6 separate regions of the Homo sapiens genome follow, and all the other regions are linked to region 6. Evidence: fine-mapped expression QTL. A gene starts in region 6. Each other region holds a variant in brackets. All regions are shown on one strand. Distances are from middle to middle. Region 1 overlaps KIF1B (kinesin family member 1B). Region 2 overlaps LZIC (leucine zipper and CTNNBIP1 domain containing). Region 3 overlaps KIF1B (kinesin family member 1B). Region 4 has its middle 20 kb from the start of KIF1B. Region 5 overlaps SPSB1 (splA/ryanodine receptor domain and SOCS box containing 1). Region 6 holds the start of KIF1B (kinesin family member 1B).

Evidence for each region. PIP is the estimated chance that this variant, and not a neighbour inherited with it, causes the effect. A credible set is the group of variants that fine-mapping cannot tell apart.
Region 1: its variant is the best candidate, but not a certain one, in a credible set for the expression of KIF1B in whole blood (TOPMed, PIP 0.54).
Region 2: its variant is the best candidate, but not a certain one, in a credible set for the expression of KIF1B in aorta (GTEx, PIP 0.84).
Region 3: its variant is the best candidate, but not a certain one, in a credible set for the expression of KIF1B in tibial nerve (GTEx, PIP 0.57).
Region 4: its variant is the best candidate, but not a certain one, in a credible set for the expression of KIF1B in whole blood (INTERVAL, PIP 0.50).
Region 5: its variant is the best candidate, but not a certain one, in a credible set for the expression of KIF1B in visceral fat (GTEx, PIP 0.59).

The regions. Positions count from the first base shown.
Region 1 is chr1:10,243,115-10,247,202 of GRCh38, forward strand. All of the region lies in intron 2 of KIF1B (kinesin family member 1B), which reads left to right. Among named protein-coding and RNA genes, the nearest start is that of KIF1B, 35 kb to the left of the region's middle. RefSeq lists enhancers at 1,005-1,506, 1,507-2,006. The variant C/A (reference allele first, on the strand shown) is at 1,859.
Region 2 is chr1:9,938,270-9,942,357 of GRCh38, forward strand. All of the region lies in intron 2 of LZIC (leucine zipper and CTNNBIP1 domain containing), which reads right to left. Among named protein-coding and RNA genes, the nearest start is that of LZIC, 3.1 kb to the right of the region's middle. RefSeq lists enhancers at 555-1,055, 1,056-1,556. The variant A/T (reference allele first, on the strand shown) is at 2,149.
Region 3 is chr1:10,362,233-10,366,320 of GRCh38, forward strand. It overlaps KIF1B (kinesin family member 1B), which reads left to right. Exons shown (of 49, transcript NM_001365951.3): 41 at 1,051-1,112; 42 at 2,868-3,013; 43 at 3,177-3,416. Among named protein-coding and RNA genes, the nearest start is that of PGD, 35 kb to the right of the region's middle. The variant A/G (reference allele first, on the strand shown) is at 1,698.
Region 4 is chr1:10,188,609-10,192,696 of GRCh38, forward strand. No RefSeq gene overlaps it. Among named protein-coding and RNA genes, the nearest start is that of KIF1B, 20 kb to the right of the region's middle. RefSeq lists an enhancer at 1,031-1,080. The variant T/TTTTA (reference allele first, on the strand shown) is at 1,582.
Region 5 is chr1:9,334,516-9,338,603 of GRCh38, forward strand. All of the region lies in intron 1 of SPSB1 (splA/ryanodine receptor domain and SOCS box containing 1), which reads left to right. Among named protein-coding and RNA genes, the nearest start is that of SPSB1, 44 kb to the left of the region's middle. The variant CAGACCATGTTTCT/C (reference allele first, on the strand shown) is at 2,503.
Region 6 is chr1:10,208,566-10,212,653 of GRCh38, forward strand. It overlaps KIF1B (kinesin family member 1B), which reads left to right and starts at 2,005. Exons shown (of 49, transcript NM_001365951.3): 1 at 2,005-2,313. RefSeq lists silencers at 1,226-1,520, 1,607-1,686, 1,717-2,236 and an enhancer at 3,138-3,793.

The DNA.
Region 1 (4,088 bases), 35 kb after region 6:
AGATTTTACAATTCCTTTTAGGCCAGGTGTGGTGGCTCACGCCTGTAATCCCTGCACTTTGGGAGGCTGAGGCGGGTGAATCACTTGAGCTCAGGAGTTCGAGACCAGACTGGCCAACATGGTGAAGCCCCGTCTCTACTAAAAATACAAAAAAATTAGCTGGGCCTAGTGGCACATGCCTGTGATCCTAGCTACTCGGGAGGCTGAGGTGGGAAGAACGCTTAAACCTGGGAGGCAGAGGTTGCAGTGAGCCAAGTTCGTGCCACTGCACTCCAGCCTGGGTGACAGAACAAGACTGCGTCTCAAAAAACAATTGCCTTTTAGTGGGGGGAAAAAATACCATAATTAGTAATTAAAAACAACAAACGCTTAAGTTGTGCCAGGCACAATTAGGCAGATTTTAACTTACTGAATCCTTGCAATAATTATATGGCAGGTACTCTTTCCCCATTTCACAGATGAAGGAATTGATACAAAGAGGTATTATTGGCTGTCTTGCCTGGGCTCACATATCTATTAATTGAGGGAAGTAGAAAATGAAGTTGGGCTGTCTCCAGAACCCTTACTATTGGAGAGCATATCACCTCTCACAATATTTATTAAGTTTTACTATTCTGTGCAGTAATGCTGAATGTCTATGCTTAATTTGAATTTAACTTAGATTAAAATTTATTTTGATTTATTTTCTTGATGGAGGGAAATTATGAGGAAAAAGCTGCGGGGAAGGGGCAGATGATTATCAGTTTACATGTCTTTGGGCATTTTAGGTAGAGTGAAATCTAGGCCTTGCAAATCATATCTCTTTAGAATCATTCAAAATTTGCTTAGGAAGAGCAGAATTGTTGATTGTTTATTCAATGTGTATGCTAAGTAACATGTTTTATAGAAGAGTTATAATTTTTTTCCTATTTTCCTATTGTATATTTGTTTTTTAATACTCTGGGATCAAGTATACAGTGAATATGTATAGTACATTTATCCCTGTTTTATAAAAAAATGGGAAACTAAATTTGTTGTAAATGATTAAGGAACTTTATGATTATAGATCTTTTGCTCAAATCTTTATGGCAATAGGTTTTACTATGTTTCTATATTGTGAGGAGGGGAGCGAGTTGCCTGTGGGTTTTGGTTTTATGGTTTTAAAATATAAGCAGTGTATAAAATATTTTTATTGTGTGCCATTTTTCTTTTTTTTCTTTTCTTTTTTTTTTTTTTTTGAGATGGAGTTTCGCTCTTGTTGCCCAGGCTGGAGTGCAATGGCCCGATCTCGGCTCACCGCAACCTCCGCCTCCCAGGTTCAAGCAATTCTCCTGCCTCAGCCTACCAAGTAGCTAGGCTTACAGGCATGCACTACTACGCCCGGCTAATTTTTGTATTTTTAGTAGAGACAGGGTTTCCCCATCTTGAGGCTGGTCTCGAACTTCTGACCTCAGGTGATCCGCCCGCCTCAGCCTCCCAAAGTGCTGGGATTACAGGCCTGAGCCACCGCGCCCGGCCCTCCTTTTTTTTTTTTTTTGAGACGGAGTCTTGCTCTGTCGCCCAGGCTGGAGTGCAGTGGCGTGATCTCTGCTCACTGCAAGCTCCGCCTCCCGGGTTCACGCCATTCTCCTGCCTCGGCCTCCCGAGTAGCTGGGACTACAGGCGCCCACCACCACGCCTGGCTAATTTTTTGTATTTTTAGTAGAGACGGGGTTTCACTGTTTTAGCCAGGATGGTCTCAATCTCCTGACTTCGTGATCCGCCCGCCTCGGCCTCCCAAAGGACTGGGATTACAGGCATGAGCCACCGCGCCCGGCCGCCATTTTTCTTAATTGTTGCTCTAGGAGGCTTTTAGAGCGGAAGATTGTGCTGAAGATGT[C/A]ACTGGGATTTTTAACAAGCCCTAAACGTGCTTGGTTACTAAAGTTAATATAAAGTTACAGTGTTGCCACACAGATAACATCAATTATAGTTGCAGGCAAAATCTTTAGTAGTTTGCCAACAACAGTATAATTACTAGACACTGAGATATTAGATAAATTTATTCTGGGGAATTAAAAGGCGTTTAAATACTAATCTTGTTTTGACTGCCTTATTTTCTAGGGCTCAGTAATTAAAGTGTTATTTCTGCATCTTTATGCTAAAGTAGCAAAGTTGTGAATAAGGCAGGGAGAAAAGGGGGTAAAATTAGGGAATTTAGTAGACTGTCTTAAGTCTTAACTTGAAACTTCTTCAAGAAAGAGAAGATGGTCAGTTGTGGTTCATCAGTAAACTAAGACCTTTGAAACATTTTGTGATAGTCATTTTGATAGCATTTACGTTTATCTTGGATAAAAGTCTTCAAGTCAGCCTTTATGGAAATTATAGTGTCCTGCCCTTCTCCAGCTCTCCTAAGGTTAGTGTTGGCTACACCATTAGGAATAAAAAACCTGAAGACAAAAGGGAAAAGATACAAAAGTTGTATGGAGAGGATAAAGGAAGGATCATTTTTCCTTTGGACTTGGAAAAAAATACATTTAGGTCTTAGATGTTAAAGCTGCCTTTTAGATTTATGAAGGAAAATTTAGGAAAACAGCCTTGAAACCTCATGGGATTTGGATGGTAACCAAGAGGCAAGGCCTGGAGGTGAGAGTGAGCAGAGCAAGTTATTGGGGAAATCAGGAGATAGCCTGAACTCATTCTTCTAGAGAGTCCTGTAAGTGGTTATGATGATAATCATTGTAATAAAGGTAGGGAATATAACGTGACTGACTACTTCAAACAGTTCATTTTCTTGGCTCTTAGTACCCCATACTCTCCTAATTGCCTTCCTTCCTCCCAGGTTGGTTATTCTTTACCTCCTTCGGTTAAAGTCCACCAGGCTTTTGTCCTCAGATCTCTCTCTCCAGAAAAGAGAGACGCCCTAGATGATTTCTTCTAGTTCTGGGGGCTTAAATGTCATTGAGATGGTGATAACTCCCAGATTCACTTCTGTAGCCTGGACCTCTCTCTAGAAGTATAGACTTGGCTACCCAGCTGCCAACTGAACTCTACTTGAAGGCCACAGAAGCATCTCAAACTCAACATGTCCTAAACATAACTATTGTTTTTTCCCTTCCTGACCACCCAGAGTGGCTCCTCCTTTATTTTTATCAATTCTTTTAGTTGCCTAGACCAAAAATATTGGAGTCATTCTTACCTTCTCCGTTTTTCTCATAGGCCACATATATCAATCAGTAAGTCTTGCCATCTTTGCCTTCACAATATATCCTGAATCAGTTACTTTTTGCCATTTCTACTCTAGTCAAGATAAGTACTGCAATAGCCTCCTGTCTCTCTGCTTTTGCCCTTGTTTCCATGCAGTAGCCAGTCATATTTTAGAAATATACATCAGGGCTGGGTGTGGTGGCTCACGCCTGTAATCCCAGCACTTTGGGAGGCCGAGGTGGGCGGATCACGAGGTCAAGAGTTGGAGACCAGCCTGGCCAACGTGGTGAAACCCCGTCTCTACTAAAAATACAGAAATTAGCCGGGCATGGTGGTGCACGCCCATAGTCCCAGCTACTCAGGAAGCCGAGGCAGGAGGATCGCTTGAACCTGGGAGGCGAAGTTTGCAGTGAGCTGAGATCGTGCCACTGCACTCTAGCCTGCTGGGCGACAGAGTGAGACTCTGTCTCAAAGAAAAAAAAGAAATATAAATCAGATTATGTCACCCCTTTGCAATCAGATCATGTCACCCCTCTGCTTAAAATTCTTCACTGGTTTCCTGTCACATTTATTTCATTTTAATGTAATTTTAAATTTTTTTTGTAGTCAGAGTCAGAGCCTCTGTCGCCCAGGCTGGAGTGCAGTGGCATGATCTAGTCACACTTGCAGCCTCTGCCTCCCAGGTTCAAGCTGTTCTCGTGTCTCAGCCTCCCAAATAGCTGGGACTACAGGTGCGTGCTACCACACCCAGCTAATTTTTGTATTTTTAGTAGAGACAGGGTTTTGCCATGTTGGCCAGGCTGGTATCGAACTCCTGAGCTCAAGCAATATGTCCACCTAGGCCTCCCAAAGTGCTAGGATTACAGGTGTGAACCACTGCGACCAGTCCTTATCACTTTTAGAATAAAACTAAAAATCCTCACTTT
Region 2 (4,088 bases), 270 kb before region 6:
CCATCTTCCCACCTCTGCCTCCTGAGTAGCTGCAAACACAGGCACACACCACCACACCTGGCTAATTTATTTTTTTGTAGAGATGGGGTCTCCCATGTTGCCCAAGCTGGTCTTGAACTGGGCTCAAGAGATCCTCCCACCTCAGCCTCCCAAAATGCTGGGATTATAGGTGTAAGCCCACAAGCCCAGCTGATGAACATCTTTTAATATGAATTTCTTCTTTGGAAATGTGACCATCTTTCTGCTGGGTTATCTTTCTCTTACTGATTTATAACATGGATACAAAGCCTTTGGCTTTTTTGAGACAGGGTCTTGCTCTGTCACCCAGGCTGGAGTGCAGTGGCATGATCATGGCTCATGCAGCTTTGACCTCCTAAGATCAAGCAATGAAGCCTTTGTAATTGCAAATATTATTTCGTCTCCTGACTAAATTTTATGTTTTTTTGTCATGGCAAATTATTATTTTTTAATAGACAAATCTATCTTCTCCTTTAAATCTTCTTCGTTTTGTGACCCATGAAGGCAGGCCCTAACCATCTCAAGATTTATACATCTTTATATTCAAGACTTTTACAAATTTTTGTTTTCTAGCTGCAGACAAAAGCCACCTGCAACATTTTTTGTTATGCTTTGAAGTAGGGGTCTAACTTTCCTTTCAAAAACACCCTTTACTAATCAGTCTTTTATTTATTGATCCAGGAGAATTTGGTCTACAATAAAGGTGGCATATTGATTAATAAATAAAAGACTGACTAGTAAAGGGTATTAGGGCAATTGGCTAGTCATTGATAATTTTCTGTTCCTAAGGAATCACTTCTTTTTTTTTTAGACTGAGTCTTGCTCTGTCGCCCCGACTGGAGTGCGGTGGCACGATTTCGGCTCACTGCAACCTCCACCTCCTGGGTTTCAGCAATTCTCCTGCCTCAGCCTCTTGAGTGCGTGCCACCACGTCCGGCTAATTTTTGTATTTTTAGTAGAAATGTGGTTTTGCCATATTGGCCAGGTCGGTCTTGAACTCCTGACCTCAAATGATCCACTCACCCCAGCCTCCCAAAGTGCTAGGATTACAGGCATGAGGCACCCCACTTGGCTTTTTTTTTTTTCTTTTTTTTTTGACACAGAGTATCGCTCTGTCACCCAGGCTGGAGTGCAGTAGGCTGGAGTGCAGTGATGTGATCTCAGCTCACTGCAACCTCCACATCCTGGGCTCAAGTGATTCTCCTGCCTCAGCCTCCTGAGTAGCTAGGATTACAGGTGTGCCACCACATCTGCCTTTTTTTTTTTTTTTTTTTTTGGTATTTTTAGTAGAGACAGTGTTTCGCCATGTTGGCCTTGGCCTCCTAAAATGCTGGGATTACAGGCATGAGCCACTGTGTCCAGCCCTCAGGCAACATTTCTTGCTATTTACATTATTATGGCTTTATCACTGATATATCTCGATAACTGATAATGACTTGCCTTTATTGTTTTCTCCTCCCCAAAATTCTTGGCTCTTCTTGTGCACTTTCTCTTCCAGATGAATTTAACAATCAGTATGTCAAGTTTCATTAAATATCCTATTGACTGGGGCCAGGCATGGTGTCTCACACCTGTAATCCCAGCACTTTAGGAGGCTAAGGCAGGCAGATCACTTGAGACCAGGAGTTACAGACCAGCCTGGCCGACACGGCGAAACCCCGTCTCTACAATAAATTAAAATATTAGCTGGGCATGGTGGTGTGTGCTTGTAGTCCCAGCTACTTGGCGGGCTGAGGTGGGAGAATCATCCAAGCCTTGGAGGCAGAGGTTGCAGTGAGCTGAGATTGTGACACTGCACTCCAGCCTGGGAGACAGAGTGAGACTCCTACTCAAAAAAAAACAAAAAACAAAAAACAAACCACAAAACTTTCCAGGTAACTTATTAAAACATGTTTTTTGTTTGTTTTGAGACAGAGTCTTGCTCTGTCGCCCAGGCTGGAGTGCAGTGGAGCAATCTCAGCTCACTGCAAGCTCCGCCTCCCGGGTTCACACCATTCTCCTGCCTCAGCCTCCCGAGTAGCTAGGACTATAGGCACCCGCCACCACGCCCAGCTTATTTTTTTTGTATTTTTTAGTAGAGACGGGGTTTCATCGTGTTAGCCAGGATGGTCTCGATCTCCTGACCTCGTG[A/T]TCCGCCCACCTCAGCCTCCCAAAGTGCTGGGATTACAGGCGTGAGCCACTGCACCCGGCCTAGTTTTTGTATATTTTTTTTAGTAGAGACAGGGTTTCACCATGTTAGCCAGGATGGTCTCAATCTCCTGACCTCGTGATCCGCCCGCCTCGGCCTCCCAAAGTGCTGGGGTTACAGGCGTGAGCCACCGCACACAGCATTAAAGCATGTTTTATTTTCCTACACATAATGAAATCATTACCAGATGATTTGACATGTGTACTTCATTGGAGAGGATTCTTACAGTATATTCAAAATTAAATATAATGACAAAAAATTACTACCTAATCTATTAAAATTGGCATAAGTCATCTATGATCATTAATGATATGCAAACATAAACAAGTATTATACCCAGAAGTGTAATTTATTGTAGCTACATCTTATGTATAATAGTTTAGTGGATTTTTCCTGGAAATTGTCCATTTTAATTTTTCTCTTAAGTCTGTGGAATTTTCCAGTAAAAGTCAAGGCAAACCCAAGATGTAACTGACAATGTCTTTTCAGAGTTAGTTTCCTACAGTCTAACCACACTGGATGACTTGCTGTTCCAAAAATGTCATGCACTTTTTTGAGCCTGCATTTTTTTTTCTACCTATGAAGCCCAGTTCATTCTTCAAAGTCTAGTTCAAGTGTCACCTTCTCTACAAGGTCTTCCTTGATTTCCTCCCAATCACTAGGTTGTGAATTATTTAAGTAGGGATTTTACCTTTTCTTTCTTTCGTTCGTTCGTTCTTTCTTTCCTCTTTCTTTTTTTTTTGATGGCGTCTCACGGTCACCCAGGTGGAGTGCAGTGGCATGATCTTGGTTCACTGCAACCTCTGCCTCCTGGGTTCAAGTGACTCTCCTGCCTCGGTCTCCCGAGTAGCTGGGAATGTAGGTGCCCGCCACCACGCTCAGCTGATTTTTGTACTTTTAGTAGAGATGAGGTTTCACCATGTTGGCCAGGCTGGTCTCAAACTCCTGACCTCAGGTGATCCGCCTGCCTCAGCCTCCCAAAATGCTGGGATTACAGGTGTAAGCTATCGTGCCTAGCCTTTACCTTTTTTTTTTTTTTTTTTGAGATGGAGTCTCACTCTGTCGCCAGGCTGGAGTGCAGTGGCACGATCTCGGCTCACTGCAACCTCCGCTTCCCAGGTTGAAGAGATTCTCCTGCCTCGGCCTCCCAAGTAGCTGGGATTACAGGCACGCACTACCACGCCCAGCTAATTTTTGTATTTTTAGGAGAGACGGGTTTCACCATATTGGCCAGGATGGTCTCGATCTCTTGCCCTCGTGATCTGCCTGCCTCGGCCTCCCAAAGTGCTGGGATTACAGGCGTGAGCCACCGCACCCGGCCTTTACCTTTTCTTTATACACCAGCATCCAGCACAATCTTGGACAGACAAAAAGTGCCGAATAAACAACTGGTAGATGAATAATGAGAATTGATTGCTTCTTCTTTAGCATTCAAATCTTTTTTTTTAAAATTTTTTTTGAGACGGAGTCTCGCTCTGTCGTCCAGGATGGAGTGCAGTGGCGCGATCTCGGCTCACTGCAACCTCAGCCTCCTGGGTTCAAGCAATTCTCCTGCCTCAGCCTCTCCAGTAGCTGGGACTACAGGCATGCGTCACCACATCTGGCTAATTTTTGTATTTTTAGTAGAGATGGGGTTTCACCATGTTGTCCAGGCGAGTCTTGAACTCCTGACCTCTGGTGATCCACTTGCCTCAGTCTCCCAAAGTGATGGGATTACAGGCGTGAGTCACCGCGCCCAGCTCAAATCTTATTCTCTATTTAGCACTTATTTCTGCCTTTAATTATATATGATTTTATTATAATACGTTATCTCCTCTGACTAAACTCTGGAGAACAGAATATGAGTCTGATTCCTCTCTCAGCTTTCTCAGTACCTAATACA
Region 3 (4,088 bases), 150 kb after region 6:
ACGTTGGGAGGCTGAGGACAGAGAATTGCTTAAGCCTAGGAGTTTGAGACCAGCCTGGGCAACACAGACCCCATCTCCACAGAAAATTTTAAAATTACCCAGGTGTGGTGACACACACCTGTAGTCCCAGCTACTCAGGAGGCTGAGGTGGGAGGATCACTTGAGCTTGGGAGGTTGAGGTTGCAGTGAGCCATGATAGAGCCACTGCACTCCAGCCTGGGTGAAACAGTGAGACCCTGTCTCAAAATTTAAAAAAAAGAAAAGAAAAAGGAAAAAAAAAAAAAAGAAAGAAACAATACAATGAATACCTGTGTATCACCGCCCAGCTTAAAAATAAGTGTTACTAATACAATAGAAGGTATTATACCTCCTACTACTCACAATCCCCAGAAGTTGTTGATTATCATTTCATTCTAGTCATTGTTTCCCTCATATCGTCTCTCTTATAGTAAGAAAAGACAAATTTTTAGTTTTCACATTTATATTTTAAATTTTCTAGTTTATCATTCAATTTTATTCACCCTATTGAAATAAAGTGTTTAAAAGATAGAGATGAGGTGGGGCATGGTGGCTTATGCCTATAATCTCAGCACTTTTTGATGCCAAGGTGGAAGGATCACTTGAGGCCAGGAGTTCAAGACCAGCCTGGGCAACATAAGGAGACCCTATCTCTACAAAAAAACTTAAAAATTAGCTGGGTATAGTGGTGTATGCCTGAAGTCCCAACTACTCAGGAGGCTGAGGCAGAAGGATCACATTAGTCCAGGAGTTCGAGGCTGCAGTAAGTTGTGATTACATCACTGCACTCCAGCCTGGGTGACACAGGGAAACCCTATCTATAAAAAAATTAAATTGAGATGAAAGCGGACTCCTCTAGGAAAAGGTATGCTACTTAGGTTCAAAATAAGAAAAGAGCGGTGACAAATAAGAAATGCCTGGAATTATATTTGAGTCCCTGCAGAGAAGACACTATTTTAAGTAGCAGAAATTGAAATTTTCCTGTTTTTGTGCTTTAAGAGATTAAACAATTGTTTTATTTTCTTCAAATAGGAATCGAGTCACTGGCATTTACGAACTCAGCTTATGCAAAATGTCAGACACAGGTAGTCCAGGTAAGCTCTTGTGGATTGAGGAGGTGATAGTTATCTTTGTGTATGTTTCAAGTATCCTGTATTTAGGCTGGGCACGGTGGCACACACCTGTAATCCCAGCGCTTTGGGAGGCCAAGGCGGGTGGATCACCTGAGTCCAGGAGTTCAAGAGCAGCCTGACCAACATGGTGAAGCCCCCCTTTCTACCAAAAATACAAAAATTAGCCAGGTGTGGTGGCGCGTGCCTGTAATCCCAGCTACTCAGGAGGCTGAGGCATGAGAATTGCTTGAACCTGGGAGGCAGAGGTTACAGTGAGCCGAGATTGTGCCACTGCACTGCAGCCTAGGTGACAGAGTGAGACTCAGTCTCAAAAAAGAAAAAGAAAAAAAAATCAAATTATTAAGTCAGATTTGTTCTGTATTCTTTTTAATGTGTTTTTAAACTGCTCTTGTTCCTCTAGCTAGGCGGAGTTAAGCAGCACTTAGCATTTCTATGTTTGTAAACCGAAACATGAACAAAAGTTAAGGTTTTCTAATAGCATTTGATTAATGTGAGTTTGAGTCATTTTACAGAATATACATGGAAAACAAGTCAGGGCCCACAGGC[A/G]AGACTTAGATAAGTAAAGAAGACTTTGAGTATGAATCCAAGTAGCACCTAATTATTATACTATCCAGATAGTTTCTTGAGGAATTTTTTTAATTAATATAAATTCATGTATTTAATATGTAAAACCAGCATAATACTAAAAAAAATTAACAGGAAATAATAGAGGCTAAAGTTCTCTGTCATCTGTCAGCCAGTGAGCTACTGAGTGTGTGTATGTGTGTGTGTATTCCCTTCCGTCTTTTTAAAAATTTTTATTTTTAGGGACAGGATCTTTTTTTTTTTTTTTTTTTTTTGAGACAGAGTCTCGCTGTGTCACCCAGGCTGGAGTGTGGTGGCGCCATCTTGGCTCACTGCAACCTCTGCCTCCTGGGTTCAAGTGATTCTCCTGCCTCAGCCTCCTGAGTAGCTGGGTTTGCAAGCACCCACCACCATGCCCAGCTAATTTTTGTATTTTTAGTAGAGATGGGGTTTCACTATGTTGGCCAGGCTGGTCTCGAACTCCTGACCTCAGATGATAGCCCACCTCAGCCTCCCAAAGTGCTGGGATTACAGGCGTGAGCCATCACGCCCGGCCCCATAGTGTATAGACTACTACAGACTATTTAATATTTCTGCATTTTCACCTAACATCATAATTTTATCATTTTCTTAAATTGCATCCCAGTCTTCATAATTATCAAAGAATGTAAAACTCAGTTTTTAAAAACGTTCAGTTGCTTTGCTATTTAAACAAAATCCCATATATCTTCAGACCAAACTGTCTTAGTTTGCTACGTATAAGAATTATTAATTCGTGGCCAGGCGCGGTGGCTCACGCCTGTAATTCCAGCACTTTGGGAGGCTGAGGCAGGTGGATCACGAGGTCAGGAGATCGAGACCATCCTGGCTAACACAGTGAAACCCGGTCTCTACTAAAAATACAAAAAATTAGCTGGGCATGGTGGCGGGCACCTGTAGTCTCAGCTACTCGGGAGGCTGAGGCAGGAGAATGGCATGAACCCAGGAGGCGGAGCTTGCAGTGGGCTGAGATCACGCCACTGCACTCCAGCCTGGGCAACAGAGCGAGACTCCATCTCAAAAAAAAAAAAAAAAGAATTATTAATTCGTTTTGACCTAAACTTGGAATTGAATTTTTTTTCTGAAACAAAAACTTGTTTCCTCTTGTCTTAGGTATGCAGAGAAGGAGAAGAAAAATCTTAGATACGTCAGTGGCATATGTGCGGGGAGAAGAGAACTTAGCAGGCTGGCGGCCCCGTGGAGACAGCCTCATCCTTGAGCACCAGTGGGAGCTGGAGAAGCTGGAGCTCCTACATGAGGTATCCAGGGGCAGGGTTGTTCAGATGCAAGAACTCTCGGACAAGATTGCCAAAGTATCAGTCTTCCTCCCCGCTGCTGCATGTGATCATAGCTTTTCACTTTTCTCTCCTGAGGTCTTAACGAGCTTTGTGTTTGCTATAGCAGTAGTATTGATCTTCTCAGGTGGAAAAAACCCGCCACTTTTTGCTGCTGCGTGAGAGACTTGGTGACAGCATCCCCAAATCCCTGAGCGACTCGTTATCCCCCAGCCTCAGCAGTGGGACCCTCAGCACCTCCACCAGTATCTCCTCTCAGATCTCAACCACTACCTTTGAAAGCGCCATCACACCTAGCGAGAGCAGTGGCTATGATTCAGGAGACATCGAAAGCCTGGTGGACCGAGAGAAAGAGCTGGCTACCAAGGTGTGAATCCCTTCCTCTTTGCTGAACGTCTTCCCACAAGGCTCCACAAACTAGCCTCTCGGTTTATTCATTTTCAACACCTTTGTTCGAGGTGTTTGAAGGCCTGTGATAATACTGTGAATGTAGAAATAAAAAGACGCAGTTCCTACCCTCAACAAGCTTACAGGGCCAGGCACAGTGCCTGATGCCTATTATCCCACCACTTTGGGAGGCTGAAGCAAAGGGATTGCTTGAGCCCAGGAGTTAAAGACAAGCCCAGGCTAACATAGTGAGACCTTGTCTCTACAAAAACAAAAATTAGGCCAGGCATGGTGGCTCACACCTGTAATCCCAGCACTTTGCAGGGCTGAGGCAGGTGGATTACCTGAGGTCTGGAGTTCGAGACCAGCCTGGCCAACATGGTGAAACCCTGTCTCTACTAAAAATACAAAAATTAGCCAGGCGTGGTGGCGAGCGCCTGTAATCCCAGCTACTCAGGAGGCTGAGGCAGGAGAATTGCTTGAACCCAGGAGGCGGAGATTGCAGTGAGCCGAGATAGCTCCACTGTGCTCCAGCCTGAGCGACAGAGTGACACTCCATCTCAAAAAATAAAATAAAATAATAAAAAATTAAAAAATTAAAAAATATAAAGGTTGCAGAATATTAGGTCACAAGCATATAATAGAGATGTGT
Region 4 (4,088 bases), 20 kb before region 6:
CCAGGCTGGAGTGCAGTGGCGTGATCTCAGCTCACTGCAACCTCCGCCTCCCAGGTTCAAGTGATTCTCTTGCCTCAGCCTCCCGAGAAGCTGGGACTACAGGTATGAGCCACCACTCCCAGCTAATTTTTGTATTTTTAGTAGAGACGGGGTTTCACCATGTAGGCCAGACTGGTCTCGAACTGCTGACCTCAGGTGATCCCCCTGCCTCAGGCTCCCAAAGTCCTGAGATTACAGGCGTGAGCCACCGCACCCGGCCTGCGGTCACATTTTTTACCCCATCTTTAGATATCGTCCCGAAAGTGCACTGTTTTTGATTTCTGACCAGAAGCCATTTCTTAATTTTTTAAATTTTTTTTTTTTTTTGCCAGTTCATCTCACATTTTTCTACAGGCAATGAAAGAAGCCAAATGGTATTTCATTATTCTGCCTTCACATCTCCTGACATAGATCATTGAGTTCACTTGGCAGATTTTCTCCTTTCCAAGTCACCGCAGACAACGGTGTTGACAAAATCTCCACCTCTAAGTAACAGAGGTCCCCTTTCCTGCAGTTTCCAACAGTATTTACTCACTTTCCTATAAGCCTCACTAACGGTGTTCTCAATACATTTTTATCCTCTGCCTACTAACTCCATCCCAAAGCCAATGCCACATGCATTATACTTTGTTTCAACAGCACCCACTTCCAAAGACCTAAATCTTAATCGCCCAAATCTAGTGGCTTAAAACAGAATCTATTAATATCTATCATGGGCTGGGTGCAGTGGCTCACCCCTATAATCCCAGCACTTTGCTTTGGGAGGCCGAGGCGGGCAGATCACCTGAGGTCAGGTGTTCAAGACCAGCCTGGCCAACATGGTAAAACCCCGTTTCTACAAAAAGTACAAAAATTAGCCAGGCATGATGGTGGGTGCCTGTAACCCCAGCTACTTGGGAGGCTGAGGCGGGAGAATCGCTTAAACCCAGGAGGCAGAGGTTGCAGTGAGCCGAGATCACACCACTGCACTCCAGCCTGGGCGACAGACTCCGTCTCAAAAAAAAAAAGAAATTGTTAATGTCTATCATGGTTTTGGGGTTGACTGAGCTCACTGGGCTGTTCTCACTCAGGGATCTTACACTGTTACCGTCAGATGGTGGCTGAGGCTAGAGTCACCCTTAGGGCTTCCTCACTCACATCTGGCTGTTGGCTGGCACACCCAGGTGTGCCCTCTCTGGAGCTAGGTTCCGAGAGCTAGCACCCTGAGAAGACCAGGCAGAAGCTGGGTTTCTATGGCCCAGCAGCCCAGAGGTCTTATGGTATCACTTCTGCTGTGGCCACAGGCATGCTCGGTTTCCAGGAGAGGAAACACAGACCCCACCTCTCAGTAGGGAGGAGTCTCAATGCCATGTTTCAAGAATAGCACGGAGGACTGGAGGTCTTGTTGCAGCTGTCTTAGAAACTAGAACTAGCCACACAGGTTTCTCCCTTTGTAAACTATCTATCCTTCTGTATGTGCTTTTCTGCCCTTTCTCTCGTGTTTTTTAGGTTTTTGTTTGTATTATTCTAGAACTTACTTCCTAGTCAGTTTTATTTTAATTA[T/TTTTA]TTTATTTATTTATTTATTTATTTATTTATTTAGAGACAGGGTCTCACTCTGTTGCCCAGGCTGGAGTGCAGTGGCATGATCACAGATCACTGCAGCCTCAACTTCCCAGGCTCCAGCGATCCTCCCACCTCAGCCTCCTGAGTAGCTGGCACTACAGGTGTGCACCACCACGCCTGGCTAATTTTTTGTATTTTTTGTGGAGATGGAGTTTCACTATGTTGCCCACTCTGGTCTCAAACTCCTGGGCTCAAGCAATCCTCCTGCCTCGGCCTCCCAAAGTGCTAGGATTATAGGTGTGAGCCCTTGTGCCTGGCCCACCTTTTCTTTGTTTTGTTGTTGTTGTTGTTTGTTTGTTTGTTTTGTTGTTGTTTATCTTTGGGCCCCATCTTTTTATTATAAAGTGTAACACCTGGCTGGGAGCAGTGGCTCACACCTGTAATCCTAGCACTTTCAGAGGCCGAAGCAGGCAGATCACGAGGTCAAGTGATCGAGACCATCCTGGCCAACATGGTGAAACCCCATCTCTACTAAAAATACAAAAATTAGCTGGGCATGGTGGCGTGCGCCTGTAGTCCCAGCTACTCAGGAGGCTGAGGCAGGAGAATCGCTTGAACCCAGGAGGCGGAGGTTGCAGTGAGCTGAGATCGCGCCATTGCACTCCAGCCTGGTGATAGAGCAAGACTCCATCTCAAATAATAATAATTATAATAATAATAATAATAAATAAAGTATAACACCTATGTTAGGCCATTCTCGCATTGCTATAAAGCAAGCTTGTCCAACCTGGGGCCCGTGGGCTGCAGGCAGCCCAGGACAGCTCTGAATGTGGCCCAGCGTAAATTCATGAACTTCCTTAAAACATTATGAGATTTTTTTTGCGATTTTTTTTTTTTTTTTTAGCTCATCAGCTATCGTTAGTGTTAGTGTATTTTATGTGTGGCCCAAGACAATTCTTCTTCTTCCAATGTGGTCCAGGAAAGCCAAAAGATTGGACACCTCTGCAGTGTAAAGGAATATATGAGGCTGGGTGATTTATAAAGAAAAGAGATTGAATTGGCTCATGGTTCTGCAGGCTGTACAAGGGTGGCACCGGTGTCTGCTTGGTGTTTGGGGAGCCCTCGGGGAGCTTTTACTCATGGTGGGAGGTAAAGGGGGAGCAGACACTTCACAGAGAAACAGCAGGAGCAAGGTGCGGAGAGGCGCCACTTACTCTTAAAACAACCAGATCTGGTAAGAACTCACTCACTATCACAAGTAGAGATGGCACCAAGCCACGAGGGATCCCTCCATGGCCCAAACACCTCCCACCAAGCCTCACCTCCAACACTGGAGATTACATTTCAATATGAGGTTTCGGCAGGGACAAATATCCAAGCTATTTCAACACTTAGTCAGCAAAATGAATGAAACATAGATGTACAATTCGGTAAATTATTATATGTGAGGCACAGTGGCTCATGCCTGTAATCCCAGCACTTTGGGAGGCAGAGGCAGGCGGATCACATGAGGGCAGGAGTTCGAGACCAGCCTGGCCAACATGGTTAAACCCCGTCTCTACTAAAAACACAAAAATTTGCAGGGTGTGGTGGTGCACGCCTGTAATCCTAGCTACTCCAGAGGCTGAGGCAAGAGAATTGCTTGAACTTGGGAAGTGGAGGTTGCAGTGAGCTGAGATTGCGCCATTGCACTCCAGCCTGGGTGACAGAGTAAGACTCTGTCACCCAGGCTGGGTGTGGTGGCTCATGCCTGTAATCTCAGCACTTTGGGAGGCCAGGGCGGGTGGATCACAAGGTCAGGAGATCGAGACCATCCTGGCTAACATGGTGAAACCCCGTCTCTACTAAAATTACAAAAAATTAGCCGGGCGTAGTGGCAGGCGCCTGTAGTCCCAGCTACTCGGGAGGCTGAGGTAGGAGAATGGCGTGAACCCGGGAGGCGAAGCTTACAGGGAACCGAGATAGCGCCACTGCATTCCAGCCTGGGTGAAAGAGCAAAACTCCGTATCAAAAAAAAAAAAAAAAGGCTTATTCTATTACTTGTTACTAATAGCATCTCTTATCTCTTTGAAGATATTTATTATGCTTATTTAAAACTTCTGTTGTGTCCAGTCCATTCATTCTGCTTCCCCTGATATAAACTGCTCAGTTTATTGTCTCCAATTTCTGGCCATTTGCTCCTCAGATGTCTGGTTATTTTCCTGGGGCTGCTAATCCCCTGGGTGTTACAACCCACCTGGATGGCAACAGCAGTGTGTACTGAGCAAGGTCAAGGCTCAGGCCCTAAGCTGTGCCCTCCTGGTGAGCGTGTGTGTGGACACGCCTGGTGAGCTGGAGGTGGACAGAGTTTGTGGCATTAAATTGTAGGCCATAATTCCCCATGTGCCGTCCCCACACGTCACCCTGCCGTTCAAGAAACCTTCCTGTGTCTCTCCTCCAGCACTGCTCTTTTCCAAGAGTCTTTTACATTTATTTTGTTTTATTTTATTTATTTTTGAGACAGCGTCTCA
Region 5 (4,088 bases), 870 kb before region 6:
TGGCCAAATTTACCATTTTAAAACCATTTTTAAGAGTTCAGTGGCATTAGGTACCTTCATATTGTTGTACAACCATCACCGTTGTCCATCTCCAGAACTTTCTTATCTTCCCCAACGGAAACTCTGTGCCCATTCGTCACTGACCCCCCATTCCTGCTCCCCGGAGCTCCTGGCACTGACCCCCCATTCCTGCTCCCCGGAGCTCCTGGCAACCACCATTCAACTTTCTGTCTCTATGGATCCGATTGTCTTAGGTACCTCATGTAAGTGCAATCATATAGTATTTGTCTTTTTGTTACTGGCTTATTTTACTTCATATAACGTGTTCAAGATTCACTCATATAGCATGTATCAAAATGTCCTTCCGTGTTAAGGCTGAGTAATATTTCATCGTGGGGATGGGCCCCATTTTGCTTCTTTGTTCATCTGTCCGTGGACGCGGGTTGCTTGCACCTTTTGGCCATTGTGAACAATGCTGCTATGAACATGGGTGCACAAATATCTGTTCAAGGCCCTGCTTTGCATTTATTTGAGTGAACACCCAGAAGTGGATTTTCTAGGTCATATGGTAATTCTATTTTGAGTTTTTTGAGGAATTGCCGTATTGTTTTCTACAGGGCCTGTAAAATGCACCATTTTGTAAAATGGTGCATTTTCATTGGGTGATCTTTAAGGTATCTTTGTGCCTCAAAAGAATGTTGTGGGGTTAGGCACAGTGGCTCACGCCTGTAATTCTTGCACTTTGGGAGGCTGAGGTGGCCAGATCACCTGAGGTCAGGAGTTTGAGACCAGCCTGGCCAACATGGCGAAACCCCGTCTCTACTAAAAATACAAAAATTAACCAGGTGTGGTGGTGAGCACCTGTAATCCCAGTTACTCAGGAGGCTTAGACAGGAGAATCACTTGAACCCAGGAGGTGAAGGTTGCAGTGAGCTGAGATCACACCACTGCACTCCAGCCTGGGTGACAGAGCGAGTCTCTGTCTCAAAAAAAAAAAAAAGATCGTTGTGGGGTCGGGTGCAGTGGCTCACGCCTGTAATCCCAGCACTTCGGGATTCCAAGGTGGGAGGGTTACTTTAGCCCAGGAGTTCAAGACCAGCCTGGGGGAGATCCCATCTCTACAAAAACTAAAAAACTAGCTGAGCATGGTGGTGCATTCCTGTAGTCCCAGGTACTTGGGAGGCTGAGGCAGGAAGATCACTTGAGCACTTGAGCCCAGAAGGTTGAGCCTGCAGTGAGCCATGATCGTGCCACTGCACTCCAGCCTGGACGACAGGGCAGGACCCTGTCTGTGAAAAAAAGAAAGAAAGAATGTTGTGGTTCTCTGGTCCCTTGATCAGTGGCTGGACGATGATCTTTGGAGTTTTTACCCTCCGAATGTCAATGTGCACAGTAGTAACGATAGCTACCACCTAATGCATTCATACATATCAAGTACAAGGTACTCAGAGATGCCCCATGCAGAGCTGTGTAAGCATCCAGCACTGTTTGAGGACCTAGTGTGTGCTGGGAACCATAAGACTCTTCGTGTCTGTCCATTTTCTTCTCTGAGGCTCTCTGCAGGCTTCCAGGGTAGGCATTTATTGTTCTCGTCTCTGTAGGTGGAAAGTGAGCAGTGCTCTCTCATGTTGTTGGTTTGAAATGTTATTTCTCGGGTTGTTAACTCACTTTGAATTTTCTGTTTACTTAAAACAAATTTTCTAATTTTTCCTCCTGGTTCTTTTTTTTTGAGATGGAGTTTCACTCTTGTTGCCCAGGCTGGAGTGCAATGGTGTGATCTCGGCTCACTGCAACCTCTGCCTCCGAGTTCAAGTGATTCTCCTCCCTCAGCCTCCTGAGTAGCTGGGATTACAGGCACGCACCACTATGCCCGGCTAATTTTGTATTTTTAGTAGAGATGGGGTTTCTCCACGTTGGTCAGGCTGGTCTCAAACTCCTGACCTCAGGTGATCCACCTGCCTCGGCCTCCCAAAGTGCTGGGATTACAGGCGTGAGCCACCACGTCCGGCTCCTCCTCCTGGTTCTTTACTGCTTCCCCCAAAGCAAAAGGAAGAAAGAGGAGTGGGGGATCCTCTGCCCGCGTGCGTTCAAGGAAGAGTCTGGGGCAGAGGCAGGGGCAGGAGGCCGCTGCCTGAGTTCACCCGTGGCGCTGGGCTAGTGAGGACGCAACTCCTGGCCGGCTCGGGCAGGTCCCTCACTCTGAGACAATAAAAGGGCATAGTTGCTGTGTTCAGGGAGCCACTGCCCTTTGCTGCCTTTTCATTCGGTGATGAAACTGCACTGCTCCCTGGAAAGAGGGGGACACTAGCCCTCCATCTCCATTTATAGTTCTTTCTATAGTCCCTGTCCAGAGACCCAGGCGGGTACGGGTGAGTTTGGGGAAGGAGCCTTCTAACCTGGCACCTCCCCTTCTGGTGCCTGCTGGTCCCCACTGAGGGGCCGCTTCACAGTGCTGGGGCCTGACTCCCTATCGTGGCATTCAAGGCCCTTGGCATCTGGCTG[CAGACCATGTTTCT/C]AGCTCTCTCTGGCATCATTGCCCCAAATGCTCCTGGCATTCTAAGAAACTCCTCCATCAGTTCTGCTTGTCCCAATGAGAAGAGATGACAAGGGGCCTACATGAGAGGGGAAGGGGTGCTTTCTGGTCGTTTCCATCTGGTTGTCCTAGAAACGGTCCATTTATGTTACCAGCACATCAGAGTCAGGATCTGAGCCTCTAACCCCCGGGATTAGCTCCAGCTCAATGGCCTTCCCCCTCCAAGGCAGAGTGGAGGACAAGAGTTGGCCCTGAAGTCCCTCTAAGAGGCCAAGGACGGGGGCTCAGTGGGGGAAAGAGGAGAGGGCTCCTGACACTCAGGGGAGGAGTGTGGCCAGGGCAGGCACCTCACACCTGGCCAGCCACCTGCCCACCTAGCCAGTGAGATTGTTCACTCGTTTTAACTTTAAGGCCTCCATGGTTTGGGGACAGGAAGCCCTCTTTGGGGGGATGGGAGAACAGGGTGAGGCTGGGGGTAGGGGAGGGGTGCACCCTAACCTCGCACCCCAGCCCTCTGCGGGCTTTTCTCCCCTTCAGCTGTGAGTGCAGCGCCTCCAGCCTTGCTGAGGTGGGGTCCCCAGTTAGGTGCCTCTCTGGGGGTGGCATCCGCTCAGAGCCTCAGGCCACCCTCCTGATGGGGACTCCCTGGCCACCGGGGCCCTGAGCCAATATCCGTGGAGGCTGCAGAGCCGCTGGTAAGGATGAACCTCCCTGCTCCCTGCCTCCGTTCGTTCTCTTGCTCCCTCACTCTGTCTCTGTCTCTCCTGGGACGCCCCATGAAGCCAGGGCAGCTGCTCTAGCCGAAGATCAGCATGGGGAAAAACAGACCCAAGAGCACCTTTAGGGGCGGGAGGGGTAACTTAAGAGAGTGACCTGGTGGCTCTTCCGGTGAGGAAGGGACGTGGGTCTGCTGCCAACGCTCTGGCCAAGGTCAGCAGCCTGTCTCTGAAAAAAGGCAGGGATGGAGATGTCCCCACCTCCTCAGCTGGGGTGCAGGGAAGAGGGAGCAGGTTTGAATTGGTTCCTGGAAGACATTGAGTGCTCAGATGGGGGAGGGGCCAACATCTCTCCCTGCAGGTCCCCTGTCCCCTCGCTCCTCCCCCCAGACCTGGAGACATGGAGGTTGGCGGTTGGGGGGTGCCACTCAGCTCTCCCCTACCCCGTTTCTTCAGGCTTCTGCTCATGGAGACCTGGGAGACAGCCAAGGCCCTGGCCGTGGGCTCCCCAGGACCCCTTTGTGGGGTGCCCCTGCCCAGGGGAGACCCTGTCCCCAGGGAGGAGGTTCGTGACTGTATGGGGGCTCTGGGTGTGCTGTGACAGGAGGCAGTTGGGGATCCATGCCTAGGCTATCCTGGCTGCGCCTAAGGCCCCTCCAGGACAGCACTTGTGGGGGTCAGTGTACCTAAGGCCACCCAGGACAGCACTTGCTGGGGAGGACAGGGGGCACAGCCAGATGCTGCCCTGGCCACTCTCTTGCCAGCTCCGGCCTCGCCCAGGAGGAAGTATACTTTCTTCTTTGCTGGTGAGTTTCTGTTCATTTCAGGACAAGTTGCCT
Region 6 (4,088 bases):
AGGCTGGTCTCGAACTCCTGACCTCAAGTGATCCACCCGCCTCAGCCTCCCAAAGTGTTGGGATTACTGTCGTGAGCCACCGCGCCTGGTTCTTCACTACGTTTTAGATTCTTTTTAGATTGTGCTCCATTGAGAGCTCAAGCAATACAGCCACCCAGGTTTTCGTAACTCTCCATGGCGCTCACCACAGTATTTACGCAAGGAGGTCCACGCTATGATGAAGTGGTGTCTACTGTTGAATTGATGAGTTCCTCTTTATTAACCTACTATAGTTTCATTTTACTCTTAGCCGTCAGGAAGCTAAGAGCTGAGTTCTGTGCTCAGTGGCAACATATTTCCTTGACTATGGATTTTTAAAATATTGTTTTTCTGGCCGGGCGCGGTGGCTCATTCCTGTAATCCCAGCACTTTGAGAGGCTGAGACAGGTGGATCACCTGAGGTCAGGAGTTCAAGACCAACCTGACCAACATAGTGAAACACCGTCTCTACTAAAAATACAAAAATTAGCCGGGCGTGGTGGCAGGCACCTGTAATCCCAGCTACTCGGGAGGCTGAGGCAGGAGAATCGCTTGAACCTGGGAGGCGGAGGTTGCAGAGATTTGACATCGTGCCACTGAGCTCAGCCTGGGCGAGAGTAAAACTCTGTCTCAAAACAAAACAAAAAAATTTTTCTTTCTAGGCATGCCTCTCATTCAAACAGCTTTTAAAAAGTCTCTTGCTTGTTTCATTATTATGAATTTTACGCCTATTTTAAAGCTATACGGTTTCACTGCTGTATGCTTTAGTGTAAGCTATGTCAAATCCTTTTGCAGGTAGGTGGAGCTTAAATTCTATAAAATGAGACGTGATCAATAAAAGCGGATGAAGAGTCTGAGGACTTGAGTGGTGGTGGAGATTTTCCAGAATTATTAGTGTAGAAAATTAATTTCGATGTTTTAGTGCATATGCTTGTACATAATACCTTTTACTCACAATAATACTGTATTTAATTCAGGGGAAGACATGTGATTTTACTTTCAATGTCTGCTAGTAAATAAAAATAATTCACAACCTTATAAAGTAATAGTGCTCGGCCTGGGCCTGATAATTGAATATATTATCACTGAAGATTATATTTTGTTAAGTACTGAATTGAACAGTTTCTGAACAGTGAGATTTTTCTTTCCAGCTGAATCTAAATCTGATTTTAAAGAAATCACTGCTCGTGCTTTTGTGTCCTCCGGGTTTCTAACTTCCACTCTCCCTCCTTCAAGGGCATCTCCCAGAAGGGGGCTGGGCTCGTTAACTCAGGGACGGTGCAAAGCGTTTGTTCCTCTCCTCACAGCCCTTCCGCGGTCTCCCAAGGAGACAAGTGGAATGCCCACCAAGTCATGCTTTTCCATTACTCATTCCGCCTTCTCTCCCGAGGTGGCGCGTGGGAGGTGTTTTGCTCGGGTTCTGTAAGAATAGGCCAGGCAGCTTCCCGCGGGATGCGCTCATCCCCTCTCGGGGTTCCGCTCCCACCGCGCCGCGTTCGGCCGGTTCCGCCTGCGAGATGTTTTCCGACGGACAATGATTCCACTCTCGGCGCCTCCCATGTTGATCCCAGCTCCTCTGCGGGCGTCAGGACCCCTGGGCCCCGCCCCGCTCCACTCAGTCAATCTTTTGTCCCCGTATAAGGCGGATTATCGGGGTGGCTGGGGGCGGCTGATTCCGACGAATGCCCTTGGGGGTCACCCGGGAGGGAACTCCGGGCTCCGGCTTTGGCCAGCCCGCACCCCTGGTTGAGCCGGCCCGAGGGCCACCAGGGGGCGCTCGATGTTCCTGCAGCCCCCCGCAGCAGCCCCACTCCCCGGCTCACCCTACGATTGGCTGGCCGCCCCGAGCTCTGTGCTGTGATTGGTCACAGCCCGTGTCCGTCGCGGGCGCCGGGGCGGATACGAGGTGACGCGCAGAGGCCCAGCTCGGGGCGGTGTCCCGCGCCGGCGACTGCGGGCGGAGTTTCGCGAGGGCCGAAGCGGGGCAGTGTGACGGCAGCGGTCCTGGGAGGCGCCCGCGCGCGTCGGAGCAGCTCCCCGTCCTCCGCAGCCGTCACCGCCGGCCGTCGCCGCGCCCTGGCCTCCCGCACTCGCGCACTCCTGTCCGCCGCCCACCGCCCACCTCCCACCTCGATGCGGTGCCGGGCTGCTGCGTGATGGGGCTGCGGAGCGGCGCCCTGCGGCTCGCGGCGGCCGCTGCTCGCGCTGAGGTGCGTCGGTGCCCGGCCCCCCGCGCCCCCGCGCGCCGCGGCTCCTGTTGACCCGGTCCGCCCGTCGGTCTGCAGCGCGGCTGAGGTAAGGCGGCGGGGCTGGCCGCGGTTGGCGCCGCGGTCGCGGGGTTGGGGAGGGGGCCGCTTCCGCGGGGAGGAGCGGCCGGGCCGGGGTCCGGGCGGGGTCTGAGGGGAGGTAGCGCGGGACGGGCGCCGGGTGCGGGAGCCTCGCCCTCGGGGGAGGGGACCCCTCCCTAGGCCAGCAGCGAGTCCCGGGCCGGCGTCCAGCGGTCGGCTGGGGCCCCCGCAGTGCCCTGCACCGGCCCTCCGTTTCCCCCGCGCTGCCAGGCCCCGGCTGTGCCCAGCGCTCTCCAGACCCGCCGCTGCCTGGCCGTTCCCTGGGCTCCGCGCACGTTGCAGCCCGGGGGGCGGCTGTGCTTCGTTTGAAGCCATCGTTTCTCATTTTCCCTCTCCCCTTTCCTCCTTTGTGGTGGGCATCGGGCTTCGGCTGGGAATGTGGTTATGCCCTTTGCCAGATGGCGATAGGAAAGGTCATCGCTTGGCGCTGGGGGAGCCGAGGGCTCGAGGCCTGGAAAGAGGGGTGCGATAGGAAGGGAGGGGGCTTGTTGGATGCTGGCCAGGTGTGAGGAAGGCTGGTGTGGTCTCGGCATTCAGCCGACTGGGATTACTCGGGCAGCCATATTGGGAGGATGATCTGACAAATCCTTTAGGAGCCAAGTCCAGTTGTTGGAAGGCACCGAGTGACAGCCCTGGCAGCTTTCAGGGTGACTGGCCAGACCAGAAGCCAAGTTGTGGGGGTTGGGAGGCTGCTTGAGCAAGCTAGTCATTGTTCATGCAACACAAAACATTCCCGCCCCTAACGCCAGAATGGAGCTTCCAGATCCCTTTTTTTTTTTTTCCTTGATTGCTAAATGAGCTTCCAAGGTAAACTGCCTTCAAGATTCCATTCTTGTTGGGGTGAAATTCCGTGTTTCTCTATTCATCTTCTGCGTCCAGTGCGGGGGCTGTGAAAGGCCTGCTGATGCTTTACATGTGCATAGGCCGATCTGAGAATTGCTAAGGCCACTGTATCAGTATGGAGGCCTCGAGTAGCCGTAGAGCATTGGATGGATAGATTTTCAGAGTCGCTCGACTTGCAGAGAAGAAGTAAACCAGAGTATTCTGATAGTGGGCGAGGCTAGTGGCGGCATTTCTGAGGACGCAGGCTGTCATCTTTGTGGAATCTCGAGGTAGCTGAAATTAGATTGTCAACAGATCCCTTGCTCATATCTCTTACTGCTCTGAGCAGCTGTTCTGCCACCATTGAACATTCCGCTTTGTGTCATGATGTGCCTGTCTGAGCCTGATGAAAGTGTGCTGATGAGATTTGAATAACTCTTAAGAGGTGATATCATGGTGGATATTTTATTTAAAGGCTGGCATTTTGTCTCCTTAGTTTAGTCATAACAAAATCTAGTTCTTGTGTTCCTCTAAGAAGTGAGGTGGTGCTTTCTGATTAAGTTGATATGGTTGCTGGATTATAGAGCAAGTGTTGTTAATGTATTGTTTGAAGGTGGAATATGAGAATTACACATAGGTTGGTATTGTAAAGCAGGTCTGGAGATGATCAATAACTGGGTTCAGCATGAGTCTGTAGATCTGTTCTTTTCTATATCCTAGATGTGGACAGGACCTGGAGAGATGGCATGCCTGCTTTCTTCTTTGTGGCCTTTGCTTTCATTCAAGTTCAATTTGTTCATAAATACATTCTCATAACTTCTCAGGTTGAACTATGTAAAAAATTTTGGGATGGGTGTGGTGGCTCATGCCTTGTAATCCCAACACTTTGGGAGGCTGAGA